3 separate regions of the Homo sapiens genome follow, and regions 1 and 3 are each linked to region 2. Evidence: fine-mapped QTL for protein levels in blood plasma. A gene starts in region 2. Each other region holds a variant in brackets. All regions are shown on one strand. Distances are from middle to middle.

Region 1 (8,184 bases), 90 kb before region 2:
TAAATGGCCTCCACTTTTATCTGCTTTACTTTTGGGGTTCAGACAGAGATTTTGTCTGAGTAAAGCGTTCTGTTTTTGGAATCCATTTGACCAGTGTTTGTCCTTGGGACTGTCAAGGGTTAACCTGTGCTGTTTCTATTTTACCTGGCCTGCAGTGTCCTTGAGATTGCTCACTGCCTTGGGAAAAACATGTTGTCATACAAGTAAGGTTCCTGCCTCCTAGTCTCTGCTAGGATAGGGAGTTAAATTGTACTTCCATTAGCCCCCTCCAGCTTCCCAAGCTTGGCCTGCTCTGGGCCCTCACGGTCCACTCACCTGACTGTGGTTATTGTCCCCATATCTCCCCATCAGGTTGACACGGTGACAGTTCCTGTACCAGAAAGCCCCTTTGTAGGACAGAGCACAGTTGGTGATGGCTGAATCTGTGTCCTTGTCAAAGGTGGAGAAGGATCTGCCATTGTGGTAGGCCATGGAGTCACCTGGGAGAGACAGAAAATATGGACCTGAGAAATCTCAGCTGAAATTTCCCTCCTGGACAGTAAAGGGCAGAACCAGAGGTGACAATTGAAAGGTTCTGGGTGTGGGACTGGCCTTGAACATTGATCCCAGAGTCAGCATTGAATGCGGAACTGAATGGGACATGAGTGTCACCCCAGTACTTATTTCCGACAGAAGCAGCATAATGTGGTGGGAAGAGGGCTGTGGCTGGCTTTGGAGAGTCTAGCTTCGAATCCCATCTTTTCACTTTTTAGCTGTGACCTTGCACAAGTCAAGCATCTTGTTGAACCTCAGTTTTCTCATCTATACAATGGAACCAGCACTTTGATTCTATATACTGAGTAGTGCCATTGTGACAATAAAGGTGTATGCTAAACAGGTGGCATGGCATACAAATACTTACTATGATTGTTATTTTTATGACTTTTCTGCATTCCCTTTCTATAAAGACCTCAGAGAGTAAGGTGAGAAGTATGCATTTAATAATGGCATGCTTTTCTCCCACATACAAATATTTATTAGTCATAATTAAGCCCTTCAGACATTAGATGTCCCTAAATAGTCTCTGTATCACATAGTTACTTTTTAAAGTATTCATCAGACCATGTTCCGTGATTCTTAGACAAGAAGCCCATTAACATGTACTACTATTTGGAAATCTAATTTGTAATTTAATATATTGAATTTTTGAAGCATTTCAGTACCATTGCTTTGTGGGTCTCCTCACTCCCAATCCAGACAAGTGCTGTGCACAAACATTTCAAGACTCTGAGGCATTCTACCGTCATAATTTGGAGCAAGTTGTCAAAGGAACCCAGATACCTTTTTAACTGATGATGCTACCCAGAGCATGAGGACGGCACGTAGATATTAATGAAACAGGATGCTCTCCTGCAGAAGGCCTGGGTGCAGCCAAATCACACAAGAAAATGCAGCCTTACAAACGTTATCTCAGTAAAGGGAAATATTATGGCTCATTCCTCAATGGAAGCACAAAGAGAGAGGAACAGAGGCCACATTCCTGCTGCTTAATGAATTTGCTTGCCCTGTAACATTCTTCTTCTTGCCTGAAGCCATCTCAACCAAAGAGGTATTCATTTCCAGGTAATAAAATGCCAACATTCTTTGAGGGATTCAAGAACTAAAGCAATGTTTGCCCCTGGGTGTCTCTCTTTATTATCACTAAACTGCCATCTCAAAAGAGCTTTGTGCCTCCTTAGGCTCAGCCTGGCTTTGGCAACCTTTTATCTGGAGACTTTTCACCTTATGGATGTTTTCTTTCAGGGCTCAGGGAGGCTGGAAACGTGCCAAGCTTCTATCTCTTCTGCTCTCACAAACATAACAGAAAGCCACCCAAAGTGGGCATGGGTTGCATGGGGGTGGTCCACACTCTCAGTCCTGACCCTTCTTTGTCACTGAGAACATTGTCGGATGCAGTTTTCTGCAGCCAGGATTGCATCCACCTTCTACAAGCTGTTTTACCTTGGACAAATCACTGAGCTCTTCTGAACTTCTTTCCTCCTCTGTATAAAAACAACGTCTTCATAAAATGGTTTTATGAGGAATAAATAAGATGAATGCAGGTGGAATATCTACAAAAGAGGATGGTACCTAGTAGGGCCTTAATACATGTTGTTTCCTTATTTATTTCTCCTCTTATGTGGAGCCAGGAAACCACACAAAACCACTTCAAGTCCAAGAAATCTTCAAGACTGGAATGAAGGTTATGAGCCAGACAAGGAATGCAGGGGCCACTTGAGAGGTGAGACCTTCTATTTATGAGGATGCAGGCTGAGACTAGATGACCACATGGCAGGGATGTCTTGGAAGAGATTCAAGCAGCTAGGTGATGGAGTGGATGGTTTGCTACTCAAGCTGTGGTCCACAGACCAGCAACACCAGCTATATTGGCATCACCAGGGAACTTGGAGAAGATGCAGAATCTCAGCCCCATCCCAGACAACCTGTGTCAGCATCTGGAGATTCACAAGATCGCCAGTGGGTCCATACACCCAGAGTAAATTGAGAAGTGCTGGATTGGATGAATATTAAGGCCTTTGGGGAATTTTTTTTTTAATCAGTCTACAACTGATATCTAAAACTGGGTAAGAAAGACACACTTTTTTTGAAAGATGGTCATTAGAAATCAATCCTGATTGCCCTGATTCCCAACATACTCAATGTTTCAGGACCCAAATATCTACCCAACACTTTTGAATTGTAGTTTTTCTGGATTGGCACTCAGTAGGTACTTAAATATTTGTTGATTTAATAAATTGCTGGATTAATGAGGAAGGAATGAAAGTTAGAGAAATAAACTGTAAATGTCAAGAAGGTCTCCATGGCTTTGTAGGCTCTACGTGCAGCCACTACTGTACCTGCTGTCCCACTGTACCCCTCCACCTTCAGCTTGTAGCGAGTCTTGGCATCTCCCACGCTGAACTTGTCATAGACAGCAAAGGCTGTCTCCCCATGGTCCCGCAGGTCCACCCGGAGCTCGTACTGCCCCTGGGCTGTGATTTTGTTCAGGTTGTCCAGCCCTGTGGATGACAGGCAAGGGTTGCTAAGAAGCACAGGTGACTGAGGCCCTCATTTCTATTTCACTCTGTAAAAGCGGCAACTGGGTACACTTAAGACAGGGCCAACTGGGCCCAGTGGCTCATGCCTGTAATCTCAGCACTTTGGGAGGCAGAGATGGGGTGGGAGGGGGTGGGGGTGGGGGTGGTGGGAATCACTTGAGGTCAGGAGTTCGTTATCAGCCTGGCCAACATGGCGAAACCCTGTCTCTACTAAAAATACAAAAATTAGCTGGGTGTGGTGGTGGGTGCCTGTAGTCCCAGCTACTTGGGAGGCTGAGGCAGGAGAATCGCTTGAACCCGAGAGGCAGAAGTTGCAGAGAGCTGAGATTGTGCCACTGCATTCCAGCCTGGGTGACAGAGCAAGACTCCATCTCAGAAAGCAAAAAAAAAAAAAAAAGGGCCATATCACACAGGCCTGTGCTTGAAGCTCAGTCTTGTGCTTGCTGGAGTAATACTAGGCTCAGGTAAAATCGGGTTGACATTTTTGCCCCACTTCCAACCTCCCAGTGCATTAGTGAAGATCCAAGGAGATAAGGTGGTGAAAGTACTTTTTAAACTCTAAAGTGCCTTACAGGCCAGGCACGGTGGCTCACGCCCATAATCCCCACACTTTGGGAGGCCAAGGTGGGCGGATCATCTGAGGTCAGGAGTTCGAGACCAGCCTGGCCAACATGGTGAAACCCTGTCTCTACTGAATATACAAAAATTAGGAGGGCATGGTGGAGGGTGCCTGTAATCTCAGCTACCTGGGGGGCTGAGGCAGGCGAATTGCTTGAACCCAGGAGGCAGAGGTTGCAGTGAGCTGAGATCACACCACTGCATTCCAGCCTCGGCGACAGAGTGAAACTCTGTCTAAACAAACAAACAAACAAACAAATAAAATTTTGTAAAGTGCCTTACAAATGAAGGGCAATGAATAATATAGATAAATGTTTATTATAATATGATAAACATTTTCTGGGGTAGGCAGTGGTGCATAGAACAATGTTCTCTGCAGTTAGGTGGTTGGAAAGTGTGGATTGCATGGATGAATGGATGGGTGATAGGATTGTAGTGTTGACTTAGGAGATTCCAAATTTCAGCTCAACTGTTCATTGGTTAGACTCCTATGGGCAAACCACTCAGTCTTTTTGAGGCTGTGATTTTATCCATGCGAGGTGGTGAGGAGAGCAAAAATCACCTGGTGACCATCAAGTAGGACTCGGAGACAAAAACCCCTTAACTGAGGGATTTAAAGGTAATTAGGCTTCCGTATATCTCAAGCAAGCATCTGGTTCCAGGTTTATTTCCCAAAAATTTATAGGTAACTGGAACTTCTATACATCTCTGGAATACATGCATATCAAAACTCATTTTGCAACCCTTGCTGACATTAAGGCACCAAAATGTCTACAAATGTAATCATGTATCATGTTCTACATGGCTAATAGGGTCCAAATTATCCTTAAGCTCCTGCCTTAAGGTCCATAAATACCCCTAAGGAAAAATCCACTGCAGGGGCTGTAAGTCCTTTTGCAGCATTCTTTCTTTCTAATAAACGTTCCTTTTTCAAACCTATACTGTTGTTAGTAAATTCGTCTTACCAACCCACTAGTCAACCACTTCTGACACCTGACACCTTGCCCACCCGGTGGCAATTGAGTACTTTGTAGGGGTGCTATGGGGGTTAAATATTATGGCTCTAAGAAACCCATCTTAGCACCTGGAGCACAACCTGGGGCACAGGAGGGAAGATATCAATGATATCAGTGAGGAGGATTCTATGACTGGTCCAGAGAATGACTTAAGGCTAGGTTAACACATAAGGGCTGAGTTTTGGTTCTTCCTTAATCAGATTTTACTTTTTGTGAAAGGAAAATAAAATCTTGGGACCCCAATTTAACTCTGCCAATAGGAAAAAAAATAAACTGA[A/C]AGCCGAGTCATGGGAGAAACTGCCTCTCCTTTTGTCCCTAAGCAGATGCTACAGATAAAAGGCCAGATATCTCCACAGATAGTTATTCTATCTTCACTTTATCTTATGTAAAGTGCCGATTTACTGAGTGTGAGATGAATACAAAATTGACCATTCTCTTTTTTGTCATTCTGCTTTTTTCTTTTTTTTATCTTGCAACATGTGGATTCAGTAATGTGACCATATCCCTCCAGCCCACTTTTCCCCTTTAAATACTAAAGCTCTCAACATTATCTCTGAAAAAAAAAAAAAAAAAAAAAAAAAAAAAAAAAAAAAAGAAAGTCATGGACCACAGGTTGTTCCTGTGGCTTTCCCCCTTTAAACACTAAAACTCTTAATATTATCTCTGGAAAAAAAAAAAAAAAAAAAAGGCATGGACCACAGGCTGTTCCTGTGGCTTTGTGTTCTTTTTTTCTGGGCGTGTCCTTAACGTTGGCTAAGTAAACCTCTAAATTGATTGAGATCTGTCTCAGATACTTTTTGGTTTACATTTTGATGATTCAGAGCATTTAAATGATAGTCTTTTTCATTAAGAATTTGACATTCTGTGTCTGCCACCAGAAGTAGTTCTTCTTCCTCATCTCTTTCTCTCCCATAGGTCCCTGTGGGTTAGGAAAAGTGACAAGGAGGGCAGAATCAGGCATTTTAGATATAAACATGCAGGGCTGCATTACCAAGCCAGAATTCTTCTCTGCGGTCCCCAAATCCAGCAGCATATGCCTTCCAGTTTTGGTAGAAGTTCTCGCGTCCGTTTTTGCGTCTCAGGAACACCTATAAACATATCGATGAATCTGGGTGTACTTAAGCTATTGCAGGAAAGAGGGCATCGTTGTGAGAGGAAGGAGTGTGGCACTGTGGAGAGAGCATCAGGCTCCATTCTGTCCATCCCTAATTTGCTATGTAACTTTGGGTGGTCACCTGCCCCTCCTTAAGTCTTGGTGTTCTCACCTGAAAAACAGGGATTAAAAATACCACCCAGTTTTGGGTGATAATGATGTGTCAATGTAGGTTCATTGATTGTAACAAATGCACCATTCTGGTGCAGGATATTGATAATGGGGAGGTTGTGTGGGTGGGTGTGGGGTGTATATGAAAACTTCTGTTCACTTAATTGTGCCATGAACCTAAAACTGTTCTAAAAAAATAGAGTTTATTAATTCAAAAATACACTACCCAGCTCCTATGGTAATGGGGTCGGAATAATTCATCTTAAACTCTTAGCACAGTGCCTGGTAGATAATAAATGCTTAGTCAGTGCTAATTAATGTAAGCAATGGGTTCAATGATCAACTGTCATTTATACATCACAGAGTTGTTTGATGAGGATTGGATGAGATAAACTACAAGAAACTTATCTCCCCGTTTCAAAAAGTAGCCAGCGTGTTTCCCATTCTTTTGTTTAAGAGAGAATTCCTGAGTGCCTCTGTGTGACAGGCACTATCTTGCAAGGCCTCACACATGGGGGTGTCAGAGTGCATCAGGAGGAGATCACCCTCTTCTCCTCCCCTGCTTTGCCCTCTCCCTCTTCCCCTAGGCCTGAGGGCTCTGCAGTCCCTGGTGGTACTCACAATCCATCCACCCCCATCAGAGGTCATGTCACAGAAGACTTCCAGCGCCTCAGCCTTATCACCATTCAGATAAATGGTGTAGAGGCCAGAGGTCGTGTCTCCATTCAGCATTGCTTGGGAGCAGTCCTTGGGGAAGGGGTACAGGAGTCCAACTGTGGAATAAGGAGAAATGGTGATGCTCTCAGTGCAGGAGGACTGAGCTGGAGCTTAATTCTTAGCTTAACTCTATGGACTAGAATGCCTGGGGAATTTCCAGGTGCAATAATGTGATGCAAACAATTAAAAACTCATAGAAATGGGCAATCTTGGAACTATGCCTAGTAGATGGGTCTTAGAGCTGATGATCATAGCAGTTCTTTTTTCTGATCTGAGGACATTCATCTGAGGTTGTATCATGAGCTGTTTTCTTATTTATTTCACAGCCCTAGTATAAGAGCATCTTTAGGATACATTCATAGTTAGCATCTGGCATAAGATCTGGCAAAGGGGAAGCACTTTCTTCAGCAGATGTGTGCAGAATGACTGTCCCGTGAATTTTCAAAGGCAGGGCTCTCCAAAGGCCAGCTCCTCTGGTCCTCAGGAATGGATGCCACTCTTACTTATCAATGGAACAACTTGCAGGTTTGCTATCTGCAGAAGATACTTTGTGACAGGTGCAGGGGGAGGCTCCCTGGGCATGGAATATCTGAGCCCAACTCTGACTGTAACTCACAAGATAGTCTTGAACAGGTCATTTAGTCTCTGAAAGTGTCTGCTTCCCCACTAGAACTTTGGGCATAGGGCTCACCATACCAGCTTGGTGGGAAGATCATTTGTGATTTTGAATGTGGACAGGTTTTGTAAACACTGGCATGATGAAGGAGAAAGAAAGAGACTTTCAGCTCATGTTGAACTCTGACAATAAAAGGACCACACAATTATATGGGCCACATACTGGGCTAGGAGTTCAAATGCAATACCTCATGAACACTTGCAAGGTCCTGGTGACAGAGGATTTATTATTAATCTCCCTGTATAGACGAAGAAGCTAAAGATTATAGGATGGAAGTAGCATTCTTAAGGCACACCTAGCAGGTGATAGAAATGGGGACTGAATCCAGATGGGCTTCCTCCTTTCCTTTCACCGGGATGCTCATAATCTCCCACATTTGCTTTCCTCAGGCTTCCAAGTAGTAGCAGTGAATCGATTCTTTTCAGAGGTTTGTTTGAAAATTTTAAAGTAGAAGTCAAAGGGGAAGTCAAGGGTTGATTCAGTCAAAGTTAGATCTCAAGGCTGGATGGCACCCTGGGCCTCCTTACTTGTGGTGAAGATGGTCTGGATCATATTGCTCCTCAGGGGCCCATTGAGTGCCTGGATCTTGGCTGTGTAGTGGGTGGATGGGCTCAGGTCTGCCAGGCTGTAGGAGGTGGTATCTGGACCCACAATGACTTCCTAAGAGCAGAAGAAAAAGTATAATGGCTTTTGGTCACAGAAATTCTCAGGGTATAGATAAGAAGTCATTCTATTTATAAGTTCATTTACCCATCCATTCACTTACTTACTGGACAAGAATTCATTGAGTACCCACTCTCTACCAGGCTCCATGTG
Region 2 (8,184 bases):
TTGTTTCTAAAGTGGAAGAGAAGCTGGAAATGTGAGACAAGGTGGAGGGAAAGGAGTTTAGGCTTAAGGGCATAACTGAAAAATGTCTGGCCACCAGGATTAGAATCAGGTTGGTTTGCAGACTTTTCTCCTTTACAGAGAAGTCACAAAGCATGTATAGCCCCCGAAGGTAGGTAAGTTCACCATCTCTGTCTTTTACATTGAATGGAATTATGGCCTGGGGTTTGCAGGAGGCTGGTCATGTCACACTTTGAGGGGGGTTTTCCTCCTTGGAAGGGAGCCTTCATCTAATGTTTCCCACATGTTGAAGGTGTTCAAACTGGCCCGGGATAAGATTCAAGGGGATTCCCTACAATCTTCTCAGAGTGAGAGGTATTTGAATCATAATCTTCCTCTCTGAGGCTTCCGCTGAATTTGTGGCTCAATTTGTGGCTCGGAGCCTACAACCATTTCCAAGCTGTCCTGGGATTCATGGCCCCAAGGCCGATTTCACTTTACCTACCAATCAGCCCTTTTAAAACCAGATGTTTGGCTCACCTGTGTGCCTACTTTTCTGAGATGAAAATCAGCAGGAGTGACCTGACTGCTACCTCTAGTTTCATTCTTCTCTCTTCCAGGGCTGAAATTTGAACTTTCCTGTTTCCAGGCAGAGAGTTGCACCATTGAGAGCTGACCTTTGCTGAGAACCATGAAAAATGATACATGCAGGGCTATTCTGTAAAATCAATAGGCACCAATGCCAGCTGGGGGCTTCTCCACCATCTTGATCATTCACTGAAAGACACCATTTAAGGTTCTAAACTTGGTCAGCACAGCCTGACTTCAGAAGGCAATATAGCACAGCAGAAAGAACAGTGGGGTATTAGTTAGAAAGCTTGGGTCAAAGCCAGCTCTGCCCCTCAATTACGGAAAGACCTCAGATGAGTCACCTAACTTCCTTGAGTGTCGATTTCTTTAAAATTGAGCTAGTAATTTATAATTTGTAGTGTCTGAGTGAGAATGAGATGAGAAACCATTGGCAAACCCTCCTATTACATATGTGACACTATTAACTTTGTGTTTGTGTGTTTTACCATCACAAAAGGACATATATTTCGAGCCAACTAAATGTTTGCAACCTACTTTTTACGTTTCAAACTGAAGTGGCTTCAGCATGAAGGGGGCTGCGCTTTGGTCCAGTGGATATGTTTTCTTGTAAGAAAGCACAGCTAGGTGTCTATAGAAATCTAGAGAGAGAGGAGAGAATATGTGCTCTTAATTTATTGTTAGCATTAGAAAGGGTAGGATTAAGGGGGATATGTTTTTCATTCTGTCAGCTTGAATTCTCTTTCCAAATTCCATTCTGGTTATATGATCAGGCTACTGCTGTATTTATGGGTGGCCACAGTCTGCCTGGAGGGGCATATTTAGTCAGAAAGGAAGTGTTTTCCTTCTAAAGGCAGGCAAGAAGCAGAGAAGCATTCAGAAGGAACACGGCAGAATGTACCTCTGACTTGGTGATCACGGGGACCTGGGTGTGAAACCTGGCTGTATCACTCTGAGTTCTAGGACCTTGGTAAAGTTATTCAGTCTCCCTGTTCTTGAAGCCATCTCTTTGTCCAACAAATATAGTCCATACCTCAGAGACATGCTGTGGATGATCCCACAAAAGCCTACAGTTTAGAGAGTAGGCTCATCATATATTTTGGCTATCATTGTCATTAGAATTAATTAAAATAGCCTTTGTTAAGTCTTTTATTTCTCATTCATATTCCTGTCTATTACACTATTTGTGGACTTGCTCTTACTTCTGCTACAGATGGTGACTCAGAGGGGCAAAAATCCTTGTTGAAGGGCAGAATGGCAACCAGAATGCACACAGCCTGGTTTCATGATTTGTAAATGTGCTTTTTGTCATTGAAGATTCTGTGGCAATGTCCCAGAGGCTAAGAGCAAAGGTGTAAGTTTTAGACCTTGTGACCCCACTTCAACCAAAGCAGCCCTGCATTTACCTGTCATATACTGGGGGTTTGCCCTAAATTCATGTAATGAATATTTTCATCATTAAAAATAAGTTTAAAAATCATGATCTTAGAATATTAATCTTGGACAAGTCCTTGTAAAATGATAAACAGAGAAACTAAGAAAAGTTTCCATTTATTGAACCCTTAATATGTGGAAGGTACTATGCCAAGTGTTTGCCATATATTACCTCATTTGAATGTTGCAAGAGCCCTGTGAGACATAGTTTGTCATCTCCATTATATGAATGACAAAGTTGAGGGCTGAAACGTTAGTCACTTCTTAGAGTGGGGAAGGAGGAGGTTAGTGTGGGATAAAATAGAGAAGCTAGGTTTTTAAAACAAAGCATAGAGGAAAAAAATATTTAATGACTGTAGAGCTTGGCAACATCCCTTTCAATCCTTGTCCAATTTACCCTGTTTGAGCAAACCAGAGAATACTCATATTGTGCACCTTTTTCTTCCCCACAAAGCAGTCACCTTCCTGAAATGCAAGGGCCAAAGCACGCTGACTTACATCTCCTGCAAATGACTTGTATGCGCACAAAGCCAGAAACTCTTCACTTGGTTGTCTAGGACTGAATAAATCTTCTTCAGTCCTGAATTGGGCTTGCCTGGCTGGGATGGATAGTAGTTTTCCTTTCTAAAACACATATGGGAAAGCTCTGTAAAAATGGGGGAAAAAGTCTACAAAAACATGAAAAAGAGGCATTCATTCTTCAAGTGGTGCTCCCTGTCCTGCCCTCCCTCCGGACAGAAAGCTTTTCCAAAGAGTTTCCAACAGCATCGTACTTCATAGCTGTCAGCTTTAGAATCTGCAGATGCCTAAACTCAAAACCTCCTGACATTCTGGAATCAAAATTTGACATTAACTTCCAGCCCCGGGCTACTACCTTTTCTCCAACCTGTGCCAACACAACCTCCTGCTTGTAAAATACAGCCAAGTCTCAGACCTGCCAGCCTAGTGAGACACCCTCAGATTGGGTGAGATAAAAAGCGGGGGCTGGGGGCGGGCTGAGGAACAACACACAAGAAACAATCCAAGACTGGCTCAATGCCTCTTTTAACTTCCAGAGTGATGGCAGTTTTTGGCAATGACAATGATTATCCAAACTTCCAGTTATTAAGCAGTCATTGCTGATCTTTCTATACCTCATTTTCTCCTCAAAACGACAGCAGACGCTATTGTCCCCATTTTAGAGATGTGAAAACTGAGGATTAAGGAAGTGATGTATCTTTCTCAGGGTCATATGTATGGTGGTGGGGAGAATACCAAACACCTCTGGCTTCAAACCTAAGCTCTTATTCCTCTTACAACACTGATGGGTGAGAAGAACCCCTGTGTTCTTTCCAAAGTACACCAGGGGCAGCAGGGTTCCCATACCTGGGGGATGTTGTTGCTCAGATCTTTCTGTGATGAGAGGTGAGGAGGAGGAGGTGATTCTAGAGACATGTGGGACGCTGCTGGCTCTAGGCACCCCAGTAAAGCTGTTCTCCACCACTCTCTAGCTGCCTGTCAGTTATTCATCTGGCCCAGGAGCCACCTCCTCTCTTCTGTCCCCCAGCTCTCATTTCCAGGGTGAATATTTTGAGGACCAAATGAGGGAATGGGTACAAAACTCTTTGTAAACTTTATGTAAGTGCTGTTTAGATATAAACTTTTATATTCTCCCTGCACTCCTCTATCAAACTCCCTCTAACCCATCCCAGGGGCAGGCTATGAGCAAAGTCTGCCTTAAAACTCTACTGCCCTAACCCTCAAAATAAAAGATATATACAGGTGAATCAGCCAGACTAGAAGTAGGAGAGCAGTTGAAGAGAAAATTTTTACTTTTCCTCTGCAGAACAGCAGAAGATAACAACTTTACGAAAAGTTCCTTCCAAGTCTGACTATTCATAAAGTTAAAACAAACAAAATTACAAGACCAGAAAAGTCAAGGTGCATCTGATATAACCAATACACACTCCTTTTTTTTCCAGCGGTGGAAAAAAAAACCCCATATGTTTTGTAATTATAATATAAAATCACAACTCATTTGGTACCAGGAATGCAATCCTTACATCATAAGGATCTCTAGTGATGAGGGCAAAACAGACTTACCTTTCCGATGGGCGAGAGACCTAGGTCCTTGGAAGAAGTACCTGGAGTGTGGAGCTGCGGCGGTTCCCACGTGCGCGTTCCCCCGAGTTCCCCAGCAGCGCTGCCTTTGTGCCCACGGAGGCGGGGGCGTGTATCTGCGCGCGGGAGAGGCGGGTGACAGTAGGCAGGCTGTGGCCGGTGCAGCCAACTTTGGCTGGCTTATATAGCGAGCTCCTTCCTCTGTAATGGGACGCCTCGCCTCCAGACATCCTTTCCCACTTTTTCAGTTGGCGAATTAAAGGAACAGCCCTCCCAGCGGAACAGGGTTAGCTCATGAAAGACGCACTCACTCCTGGCTCTCGGCCAGGGAAGGAACCCATTTGCATACAATTTATGGCGAAAGTAGGAATTCCCGCCTGCCCGCCCCCGACCCCGAGTAGCTGTTAGTGAAATGTGATTTTTGCTTTGCTCCCCACACGGGTTTTCTAATTGTGAGACGGATGCCTGGGGAGCAAGAGGGAGTAGGATCCGCAGCCCTGGCTCCCCTCTTGTACTTGGTCAAGCTGGAAATGGGACCAGGGCTCGCCTGGGCTCTGGGCAGCAGCTGCTCAGTGGCACCTCGGAGCGAGTACAGGGACTGAGCCCAGTTCCTGGAAAGAGGAGATAAAGCCCTTCAAAAGCCTGGGGGGTTTCAGGTTTCTCTGGGCCAGCGGAGAGATAACCCAGGATTAGGTCTCAGCAGGTGGGGATCGTGCGGGACGCTCACATCAGCCCTGCTTTTCTTGTGTGGGAGCCAGCCTTGCCCAGCTGCTGGGAGGCATCTTTGTTCCAGCCCCAGTGTCCTGCAGGGCAGTAGCTTTTTGACATTGTTCATGCCCTGTGCCTGGTGTGGTCTTCTCAGCTGGGTCTCCAGGGGGAAGGATTTCTGAGGTTTTCTCTTAGTGCTGAAAGGCGTCCCCCACAGCCCTTTCTTTAAAGAAAAGCAATAATTTAAAAAGGTAACAACCTAATCCTTGAGCCATAAGCTGCGCCTTTGCTTTCCAGCCTGCCGTGGATTTCCTCCAAGCTCTGAGTCATCCGTTCGTTTGGTGGTTAGCATGCATTGAGTATCCTCAGGGCATACAGGGGCATTTAAGGGAGTGGAGAAGTAGCACTTCACCCGTGCCTAGAGACTTCTGAGCCTGCCGCAGAGCATAGTAGTTTGTGACAGTGAAGTAAAATGAAGCATTAAATGTAATTCAAAACGCAACTACCATTGAGCCCTCCCTTATTAAGTCTATAATCAGGTGCTGTGCAGGGTACTTTATGAACACTATTTTTGTTCACTATTTTTATTATATCCTTGTAACCAGTAAGTAGGATAGACACAAGTGTCTCTTTTTTACACAAGAAAACTGACGTTTAGAGAAGTAATGAAACTTTACCAAGGGAATACACCTGGGAAGTGTTTATATTACAACACTGGGCTCCAGAGATCTATTACACGTTACTGTTTAGGAATAGGGTATGATGATATTTAAACAATGTTTTATGCTGTATTAGATTGTTAACACCATTTGTGTAGAAATCACAGCCATATTTGAATATGGAAAATATATTTATTTGCTCCATAAAGCTAATTAGGAGAGATCTTTGATTTTTAAAAATTAACTACTAATAATGGAGGTCTCAATTATCCACTTATTTTCAATATTAAATGATATCATCCCCACAGTTATTATTGTTGCTGTGGGCCTCAGTTTCCCCATCTGAAAAAAAAAGCAAGACACGATTAGGTCATCCTACGGTTGCTTTGGCTGTAGTATTTTAGGATTCTCTGCTAAAGTGACCCTCCCAGACAGCAAGAAAGCCCATAAATAGTCATGTCATAAAACCGCTCATTTGAACTTTTGATCCATTTTGGCTGATTCAAATGTTGGTTGTTTGGGAAGTTTTAAATTCTGTGCTTTAGCCAAAGGATATTTCAGTAGCATGAAGCTGTGTCTCAACCAGCAGTGAGTGGTTCCTACTGAGTTAATCTCTTGGGTTAGGGATTAAAATATTAGAATAGTGTACAATATATGTCATATGGTATATAAACTATATTTGTATAGAACATATAATCAATATATTTATAATTCTATGTGAGTTTTTAAATAAGACAAGAGCGCATGCTAGAAAACTAGATAGATATGGCTTTTTCGGGGAATGTCTCAAACTCGAACTCCTCTCCCCAGTTCTTTAGGATTCTACAATCGTTGATTAGTGTCTACCACAAGTGGTATGGTCAATCACAGGGAAACTAAGCCAAATATGACCAGGCTGGCCCTCAAAGCAGGAAAAGGCTAGCAGAGGTGACAAACAAGAATACTATTATGGGTTAAGTTAACAACTATCATATAAGTGTATTCTGATAACATAGAGAAGAGATGATTTATGCATTTTTAGGAGAGGCTACTTGTAAAAGGCATTTTCTCCAAAAAGCTATGTGGCATCTTAAGCTTTTTGGCATTTGAGTAAGGAGTGCCCAGACGAGGACGTGTTTTCCATCCCTGTACTGTTCGCAGCCTCTGTTTCTGGTAGATGGGTCCATATGCACCAGGTACTCTACAATACCCAAACTTTGTTCATGCTAGGATGATGCCCTAGGCTCCTCACCTCCATGCCCTCACATCTATTTATCATCCATTTCTGATCTGACTTCACTATGGAGCTTCCTAAATGGAAGAAATCCATCTAGGAAGAGATGTTTCTATGCACTATGGCATTTGTAACTCTATTAGGACATCCATTGCATCTACATGGTATAATTACACATGTGCATGTCTAGATTTTCCTCCTAGATGCTAGGCTTCCTGAGGCTGGTGATCACACTTGCTTTTTCTGTACCTGGCATAGAGCCTTGGGTATCATAGAAGCTCAGTAAATGTTTATAGAATGAATGAAGTAATGGAGGAACAAATAAATGTTTGACATGTTGTGCTTTATAATTAAATTCTTCCTTTTACAACCATAGAACCTGAAAAGGAAACTGGATTATTGTGTCCAATGCTTCCATCGCACAGATCAGAAAGTGGGGTGCTGAGAGGAAGAATGACTTGTCTGAAGCCACTATGCCTGCTTTCCAGGAAGAAAACTGTCACAATCAGAACTGAGCAACCAAGCCACACTAGACATTACAGCAGAGGAAGTTTATGGAAATGAAGAACCATTTTTCCTCCTGTTTGGCAGAGGCCATACCTCTTGGCATCTAATCCCTCATGGTTGCATCCTTCTGAGAAGCATAAGCACTTTTTTCCACTTGAGAGGGTAGAATGAATGCATGTAAACACCACCCCTGCACAGAGCTTCCTGCCAAAGACTGATTTTGTTGTTGCTTGTTTGCAGTTCTTATTCAGGAGTTGCTGGTGGAGGCTGTGGTTTAGAGACCAGAGGAATGTCATGGTTTGCCTCAGGTGAGATCATTCTCATTTCTTTAAAGGTCTGTTAAATGTAATACTTTTTCTTCCAGACAGAACAGACAATGAGTGGAATTTTGGCCAGGACTAGTGCTGAGGAAGCTGAGTGTCCACTTCCCCATGGAATCCCCTGCTTCCTACTCTGATTACATACTCCTTCACTGTTCCCAACCTTCCTCCTCCTCTTCCCGGGATTCATCTCATCTGGTGTGCTAACTCCAGTCCAAAAGTCTCATGTGACTCCATAATTACCAGAAATCTTTTCCAAAGCCGGGATGGATCTCTGATCCCACACAGTGGGCCAGTCATTTAATTAAATGCATTTTGTTAGAGTCAAGGTTTCCCAACTTGCTTGCAGATCATTGTTGAGTGGTCTTTTCCAACTCTTCTTGCTTTTCCTTCGACAACAAAGGACAAAATCAAGTTCAAAGACCATATGGAGTGTGTGGCAAGACATATGAGAGCTTCTCTGATGGATGGACTATGGCAATTTAGCTGCGCCATCAACCAAGAAGTCATGCCTGGTCAGCACAGCAGAGTGGAGAGCATTGGTTGAGTGTCTAAGTCTTGATGCTGCATCAACTCGCTGTGTGACTTTGGGAAAATCGCTTTCCCCGCTGACACACAGGGTCCTGGTTAGCAAGTGGGGAATTCCCAGGGATTATAG
Region 3 (8,184 bases), 45 kb after region 2:
TGACTTGCAAATTATGTACTTTGACAGAATATGGTGAGGACAAGAACCAGACCATGCAGCACTATTTTCACGCCAGCTGCAGAGTCTAAATGTGTTTCCTGACACCTCAGAACCTTCTTGGGGGAGGGCATTCTGGGCTGGGTGATGGGACATGCTGGGATTTTGTTGCTCTCCTTCCCTTGTGGGTCTTAATGGAAAAGCTAAGTCACCAGCAACAGAGAAATAGCGGTGTCAGGCATTGTTGAAACTTTCCATGTATTCTCATGACACATCATTTCCAGTTATAAAAAAGAGTGGAGGTGTTGGGCTCTGTTGCCTAATCGTGGTAAGAAGTCCCTTTTACTAGAATGCATTTTTTCATCACAGCATCATGGTCAATGATCAACCATGTGAACTTGTGTAAGTTGCATAAACTTTTCAGTATCTTGACGTCTCTGTGGGAAAAGATGGAGGCCATATGTGGGAGAACAAAATCATGATTAGAGACATGGGAGAGAATAGGGCTTCAGAGTGCAGCTCCACTTCAGACCAGTGCATGGCATAGTACACATTGCCTGAACTCTCTGAGACTCAGTTTTCTCTCCTGCTAAATGGAAGTGATAGTTGGTCCATTTTATGGAGCCGATGTAAGGACTAAAAGTTATAATGCATATAATGTCCTTTGTCTGGCACACATTAAAGGATCAACCCACTTCTGCTACCATTATTATTAGGAACAAATACTTACTAAGAACCTACCATATTCAATATCACCTGAGTGCATTTTCATATTCAATTCTCACAATGACACAAGGAGATATTATCCTAATGTTGACTGTGAAAAAAATTAGACCTGGAGGGTTCAAGTCACTTGCCCAGATTCACATGGGTGTGAGTGGCAGAGTTGGAACTTAAACCAAGAATTTTTGATACCAAAACCTATTGATGATCTTTCCACTGAAAGATACTGACTAGATGTCACCTTGCTTTCCCTGTCAAATGCTAATCAGAGATCAATGACTAATCAAATGGAACTAATTAATTCTGAGTCAACAAATATTTATAGAGCCCCTGGTATTTGCCGAGTGCCATGGAGATGAGAGCTACCATGGACAAAAGGATGGTCACCCAATCCTCGGTGGTACAGGACTTCTGTAAATGCCCCAGGAGGTCTTCCCTTTTTCCCAGGTTGATGCCTTCTGAATCACTTCTGTCCATTCACTGCTTTGTCAGCAGCAGTTTACTTGACTGTTACCTTGGGTAATTCCTTGAGCTTATTTATTTACTATTTTTGAGATGGAGTCTGACTCTGTTGCCCAGGCTGGGGTGCAATGGTGCAATCTTGGTTCACTGCAACCTCCACCTCCCGGGTTCAAGCGATTCTTCTGCCTCAGCCTCCTGAGTATCTGGGATTACAGGCATTTGCCACCATGCCCAGCTAATTTTTGTATTTTTAGTAGAGATGAGGTTTCACCATGTTGGCCAGGCTGGTCTCAAATTCCTGACCTCAAGTGATCCACCCACCTCAGCCTTCCAAAGTGGTGGCATTACAGATGTGAACCACCATGCCTGGCCTCCTTGAGCTTCTTGAGAGCAGGCACTGGATCTTTCTTCTTTGCTACTTTCTCTGCAACACACTGCCTGGTACATACTAAATGCCAAAATCTTATTGACAGGCTTGCAGCGAGGAATGAGCATCTACCTTGCTGGTTAGATTGCTTTTATCCAGAGTGGTGATCCCTGGGGAGATGTTTTGCACTTGGCCTCGTGGCAGATGGGTAACAAGTGCTGGATCCCAGAGGAATGATGCATTCAACAAGTCCTGAGTTTTATCTATAGTGCCATGCAGTGAGTTCCTCCTGCTCCTACTGCCATGGGCCTTGGGATGCACCTTGAGCACTGACCCCACCTTGTCATGCTTCCTATGTGATAAGTTTCCTTCTGCAGCCAGATAGCTCTTTGACTCAATATTACATCAGTATTATAAACTGAGTAATTGTGTTTTCCTTCCTCCAATCAACATGTTGAAGTCCTCCTTCCCAATGTGATGGTATTAGGAGGTGGGGCCTTTGAAAGGTAATTAGGATTAAATGAGGTAATCAGGGTGAAACCCTTATGAATAGAATTAGTGTCCTTATAAGAGTCATGAGAAAGCTTGTTTTCACTTCTGCCATGTGAGGACACAGAGAGAAGATGATCCTCTGTGAACCAGGAAGAGAGGGCCTTCATGAAATTCTAGATCTTGGAGTTTTTGATCTTAGACTTCTCTGACCCCAGACTATAAGAAATAAGTATTTTTTGTTTAAGCCACCAGTTTATGGTATTTTTGTTATAGCAGCCCAAATGGACTAAGACACTCAGAAACCTTCCTGTGGCCTCCTGGAAGACCTTTACTATCCTGCAATTTCTCCAGGGCTGTCAGAAATTTAGACTTCAGTGTGGTTCCAGAACTAGTGTGCAGAAATATAAGGCAAAGCTCATAACCATCCTCCAGTGTTCAGGCTCAGCATAAGCCCTCTAGGAAACCTTTGTACCTTTCTTTGGGCCTCCCCCACCATAGCCCTCATCATGCTATGATTAATTGCTCAATTATCTTTCTCTCTACATTGTCGGTTATTTTTAGCTTTAATTAGTTTGCCAGATAAATGTATCAGCTACAAGCCCTTAGAGGACTTAGAAGTCTGGAAACTTTGGAGAAACTGTTTATAGGACTGGCAGTTTCTGATGGAGAACATAGGAAGTAGAAAGAAAATATCTGGGTAGTCTTTGGATATTCCCCAGTGAGGGTCTCTGAGACTGATATGATTGAGCAGCTTTATGAATAAGACCCAAGAGGAAAGGCTGGAGAAAATGAGTAAAACAAAGGGAAATTTTACGTACGTTTTTTTGCCCATGAGCTAGTCATGAAAGGGAGAATCAAATGTGATCTCATCAAAGATGTTCCCCCTTGAGATCATAACTATATATATATATATATATATTTTTTGAGACAGCCTCTCTGTCACCCAGGTTGGAGTGCAGTGGCATGATGTCGGCTCCCTGCAACCTTTGCCTCCTGGGTTCAAGCGATTCTTGTGCTTTAGCACTGAGTAGCTGGGATTACAGGTATGAGCCACCACACCCAGCCCATAATCATATATTCTTAAGTGGGTGTGTGTGCATAGGTATGTGTGCATGTGTTTTGCTTTTCAACCTAAAAGCGATCATACAATATGTCAACAGCCTTGTGTGTTAAGCACAACAGAGTTCCTCTCATTCGTAAATGAAGAGTCTGAGGCTTGAGACTTGGTTTGCCCAAGTCCAGTAGCATTAATACAGGCAGCCAGGTCTTCAGATAGCTGCCCAATTCCCTTTTCGCATCTCAAATATGTGAGGTCTTCAGACACCTTGGAGATAATATTTGCTCTCACCTCTTTCCTCAAAGAATTAAATGTGACTTGCCATCTTGAGTTTTGTTACAAAAGATTGTAATGCTATTCAATAGTGGTATCATATGTTATTTACCATGGAAAAAGATGGCAAAAACTCCCCCTGAGGAA[C/G]TGCACTAAAAGTAAAAGATCAAGACCAAGGGAAGAGAAAATACAAATATTCGAACCCTATGTATCTAACATGATTAATATATCCGAGATACATATGCGGCTCTGGTTACCAGAAGCCAAAGAAGAAAAGGGAAGAAGATTCATTTATTTGTCCTTAGGAAAATAGCAGTTCCCCAGTCAAAGAAATATTTTGCAAGCACTTAGATCTCAGAGAGGTCATTTAAAAGGCCTTTAGCATTTATTCAACAAATACTTATTTACTAGCTACTATGTACCAGGCACCATGCTAAGATATGAATATACATAATGAAGAAACAATGTCCTTGTTTCTGTGAAGCCAAGTCTAGTGAGGGAGAAAGATGTTAAAATTATACTCTTCTATATATTATGATATGGTCAGTGATATCTTTTGGCTCTGCGTCCCCACCCAAATCCCACCTTGAATTGAAATAATCCCCACATGTCAAGGGCAAGGCCAGCTGGAAGCAATTGGATCTTGGGGCAGTTTCCCTTATGCTGTTCTTGTGATAATGAGTGAGTGTCACAAGATCTGATGGTTTCATAAGTGTCTGGCATTTCCCCTGCTTGCACTCATTTTCTTTCCTGCTGGCCTGTGAAGCAGTGCCTTCCACCATAATTGTAAGTTTCCTGAGACCTCCCCAGACATGTGGAACTGTGAGTCAATTAAACCTCTTTTCTTTATAAATTACCCAGTCTCCAGTATTTCTTCATAGCACTGTGAGAACAGACTAATACAGTCAGTAATGGAAAAGAGTAAGATGATGGGAGAGAATTTGAAAGGATTTGGTTTAGCTAGAAGATAGCTCTTGTTAAAGTGATACTATAGCTGAGATTGAAAGCTAACTAGGTTTTAAAAATTTGGAGCATTAAGAAGAATAGTGTTCAGCAAGAACAGCAGATGTGAAGGTCCCAAGTCAAGTACAAGACTGATGTATTCCAGAAACTTTTAAGGACAGTGTGTTAGTGTGAATTTCAGAGGCCAAGGAGGAGAATAGTCTGGGATGAGCCCTGAGAGTAGCAGGAGCCCAGTCCCCTTCCCTGCAGAGCTTTGCTAATGTTGGTGAGATGTGGTCTGGAGAGAGACATTAAAACTACTGAAGGATTTCAAGAGAGAAAGTGGCTGTCAGATTTGCATTTAAGACTATTGCTCTGGCTATTGGAAATGATAGCAAGAAAAGTGGGTGAAAACAAGAGTGCAAGTCTGGAAACTAGAAGGAGGTTATGGAAGAGGCACCTTTGCCAGAGATTAGGGTGATCTGGAAATACGATAGAAAATAGACATTCTAGGACGGGCACAGTGGCTCACGCCTGTAATCCCAGCACTTTGGGAGACCGAGGTGGGTGGATCACGAGGTCAGGAGATCGAGATCATCCTGGCTAACACGGTGAAACCCCGTCTCTACTAAAAATACCAAAATTAGCCGGGCGTGGTGGCGGGCGCCTGTAGTCCCAGCCACTTGGGAGGCTGAGGCAGGAGAATGGCAGGTGAACCCAGGAGGCAGAGCTTGCAGTGAGCCGAGATCGCACCACTGCATTCCAGCCTGGGTGCAGAGCAAGACTCCATCTCTAAAAAAAAAAAAAAAGAAAAAAGAAAAGAAAATAGACATTCTAGAGTTAAAAACTCAACAAGCTTGATGCAACCATCTTGTTTCAGGGGAAGGCAATTACTGCACAGAGAATAATCATGGACAATGCCCCTCAAACCTCCACATCCCCAAAATCAGGACATATAGAAGGTTGGAGCAAAAATATAACCTTGGCTAAAATAATTAATAGTGTTCTTCTTGATTCAATTTGCAGGAGACATTCAGAGAAAATATCCACACTCAAAACTGAAATATGAGTGCCACACAGTCATTGCAGCTCACATCTGGGAATTTTCACCAAGCAACTGAAAAAAAGGCTATTTTCAGTTCTTTCATATGCTCTTTTTGTCATAAGTTGGGTTCGGGGGGTGGGGTTCAGAACCACAGTTGCTGTGGTGAGAGAAGCAAATTTGACAGCTTCTGGCAGAGCAAAGCACAAGTATTTCCTGCAGAGTTTTTCAAAGTAAATGGGTCTCCCTCCCTGGGCAGATACTGGCAATCCTTGATGACTCACTTCTGAGGGGCTTAGCCCATCAAGGATTCAAAGAGAGGGAGAGGCCTGGCACCAGGCCCAGTGCTGGTGACAAAGTGGCTTCTTGCCTGCTTTTTTGTAGTTGCTCCAGTGGGCACATCTGTGCCCGGAATTTGTCATGAGACAATGAGGGTTTGTTCCCTGTATCCGAAATGATGACTTCATGATTCTTTTATGGCAGAGTAAGAGTTGGAGCAGAGGAGATAGAGGATTAATGGAGTTAAAGGAGCATATTACAAAGATTGAGTTTCATATTGGTTAAGATCTGGAATGCTTTCTATCTGGCAAACTGTAAAATCCAAAGCATTAATTACATTGACAATAAGGACCCAAGTGTCCTCCCATTTAGCTGTTTTCAAAAGGTATTATGAGTATCCAAGCTGTCAGGGTGATGTGTGTAGACTTTTTTTCCTTTCCTGTGTCAAAAGCATGATGTTGAGCAGTGGCTTTTAACATTTTTGACAATAACCCATAGTCAGAAGTACCTTTTTTTTTTATTGTGACTCTCAACACACACATGTAGTGGAAAAAGTTTAATAAAAAATACCACTGCAATAAGTAACACACACAGTTTCTATGATATTTTACTTATTAAATTATTTCCTGTGTAAAAATGTGCCTGTGACCCAGTAGATTGTTTTCATGACTCTCTAACAGGTTGTGACCTGCAATTGGAAGACATAGATATTGAGGAAAGAACACAGGTCTTGGCTGTTGAGGCTCATGACCTACCTCCCCAGCTGTAGGAGATTTTTCTGTGCTTTAGTATATGAGTAAGCATGAGAGAGGTGATGCTTCAGTAATACACACTCCCAACATTTCAGTGGCTTAAAACAACAAAAGTTTATTTCACACTCATGCTATAATGGAGGCTTGACTCCATATGATGCAGAGATCCAGGCTGCAGGAGCCTTCACATCAACCCTACTTTCTCCTCATCTGCTGCAAGAGCAATTTTACTTCTAGCTCTGACTCTTTTTTTTTTTTTTGCTGTATGGAGCTGGGCAAGTCATAGAACCAGGGCTGACTTTATGTGCATGTGACTTAGGCAGTTGTATAGGGCCTGGTGCTCAGAAGGGCCTTGTGGCTTGGCTTACTACTCTGCTGTCACTGCCTTGAAAGTCTTAATAATTTTTTAACAAGAAGGCTCTTTTTGCACCAGGCCACACAAATTATGTAGGTCATTTGCATACAATCTTTTCTAAGTCTCCATTTCCTCATCTGTAAAATGGGTTAATAGAGAAGAACTCATAGCATTCTTAAGAGGACTAAAAGAAAGAGCATAGTACATACACATGTAGTTTTCAACTTGCTGCCTTTATCTTCAGTAGTACCGCTACAGAAAACTTTTACTTAATCAAGTTAGACTTCTCACCTTGAAAAGCTGTACTTCCTTATGTTGCCCTCCCTACTCCCTTCTGTTTATCTAAATTTTGTTCATTATTCAGGGCTCTACTCTAACACCTCCTCAGGGTCCTCTTCCATGACTGTCCAAGCTGTTTTCAGAACCCCTACCCCATTAATTGTGGATCCCTTCTTTATGACTCACTTACTTTTGTTTCCTCTTCTCCTTTGGACCCTTCCTTGGTTAGGATCCCTCCTACCTCGCCTGGAACATTAAACAGCCTCCCCATTAGTAACCCTTTTAGTAGCCCCTCTCCAGTTTGCCCTCCAGTTCCACTCTCCATCATACCAGGGTCATCTTCCTGTTACCCCGAAATGTCTTTTCTATCATGCCATTTCAGTTTTCAGAGACTTCAGTGGCTCTTCTCACCTAAAGGGCACTGCCCTTAGTCTTGCATTTAGGATCTGGCTCTCAGGCCACATTTTGGGTCTCATTTTCCTCCACTCCACTCACACACTGCTCCTGCATTCCTGCTCTACACCATCTCTGGAATAGAGCTTATTCTCCTGCCTTTGGTTCTTTGTACATTCTCTTCCTTCTACTAAGATGGCCTGCCACCATAGGCGTGGTGGCTCATGTCTGTAATCCAATCACTTTGGGAGGCTGAGGCAGGTGGATCACCTGAGGTCAGGAGTTCGAGACCAGCCTGGCCAATATGGCGAAACCCTGTCTCTACTAAAAACACAAAAATTAGCTCGGTGTGGTGGCTCGCGCCTATAGTTCCAGCTACTCAGGAGGCTGAGGCAGGAGAATCACTTGGACCTGGGAGGTGGAGGTTGCCGTGAGCCGAGATTATGCCACTGCACTCCAGCCCGGGCAACAGAGGGAGACTCCATCTCAAATATAAATAAATAAATAAAATGGCCTGCCCCAAGATTTACCCCACACCCCTGAAATAATCCAATCTACCTTTTACTGCTTGGCTGAAATCCTATCTCCTCAAAGACCTCCTGTGCCAGCTCAGGATGAAAAGTCTCCCTTATTCCTTGGAATCCCTATGGCATTTCTTAGAATCTGACATATATCCTGTATGTGTGGGGCAATTCCCCCAACATCTTGGTTGCCTTTTCTGCTGGGTCTGTGTTCCAGGGAATAAGGACAAAAACAAAATATGGCTAGAGT

Alleles and levels. Positions count from the first base shown, and alleles are read on the strand shown. Strength reflects both the effect of a copy and how common the allele is.
As copies of A replace C in region 1, the plasma level of the protein whose gene starts at base 4,277 in region 2 goes down (moderate association).
In carriers of allele C in region 3, the plasma level of the protein whose gene starts at base 4,277 in region 2 tends to be lower than with G alone (moderate association).

The links. PIP is the chance, under the fine-mapping model, that this variant and not a neighbour inherited with it causes the effect. The UK Biobank Pharma Proteomics Project read protein levels with antibody pairs (Olink). The fine-mapping took linkage between variants from a reference panel, not from the people measured, so its PIPs are less certain.
Region 1: its variant is fine-mapped to the plasma level of the TNC protein (UK Biobank, PIP above 0.99).
Region 3: its variant is fine-mapped to the plasma level of the TNC protein (UK Biobank, PIP above 0.99).

The regions. Positions count from the first base shown.
Region 1 is chr9:115,023,658-115,031,841 of GRCh38, forward strand. TNC (tenascin C) reads right to left here. Exons shown (of 28, transcript NM_002160.4): 23 at 7,896-8,028; 24 at 6,597-6,748; 25 at 5,703-5,799; 26 at 2,877-3,038; 27 at 316-479. Among named protein-coding and RNA genes, the nearest start is that of TNC, 90 kb to the right of the region's middle. The variant A/C (reference allele first, on the strand shown) is at 4,989.
Region 2 is chr9:115,113,881-115,122,064 of GRCh38, forward strand. TNC (tenascin C) reads right to left here and starts at 4,277. Exons shown (of 28, transcript NM_002160.4): 1 at 4,102-4,277. It overlaps LOC124902255 (a long non-coding RNA gene), which reads left to right. Exons shown (of 3, transcript XR_007061746.1): 3 at 7,076-8,184. It overlaps LOC101928748 (a long non-coding RNA gene), which reads right to left. Exons shown (of 6, transcript NR_110950.1): 6 at 5,659-5,828. RefSeq lists enhancers at 33-1,232, 4,556-5,375.
Region 3 is chr9:115,159,057-115,167,240 of GRCh38, forward strand. All of the region lies in intron 1 of DELEC1 (deleted in esophageal cancer 1), which reads left to right. The region is part of intron 1 of LOC124902257 (a long non-coding RNA gene); the gene reads left to right. Among named protein-coding and RNA genes, the nearest start is that of DELEC1, 21 kb to the left of the region's middle. The variant C/G (reference allele first, on the strand shown) is at 3,519.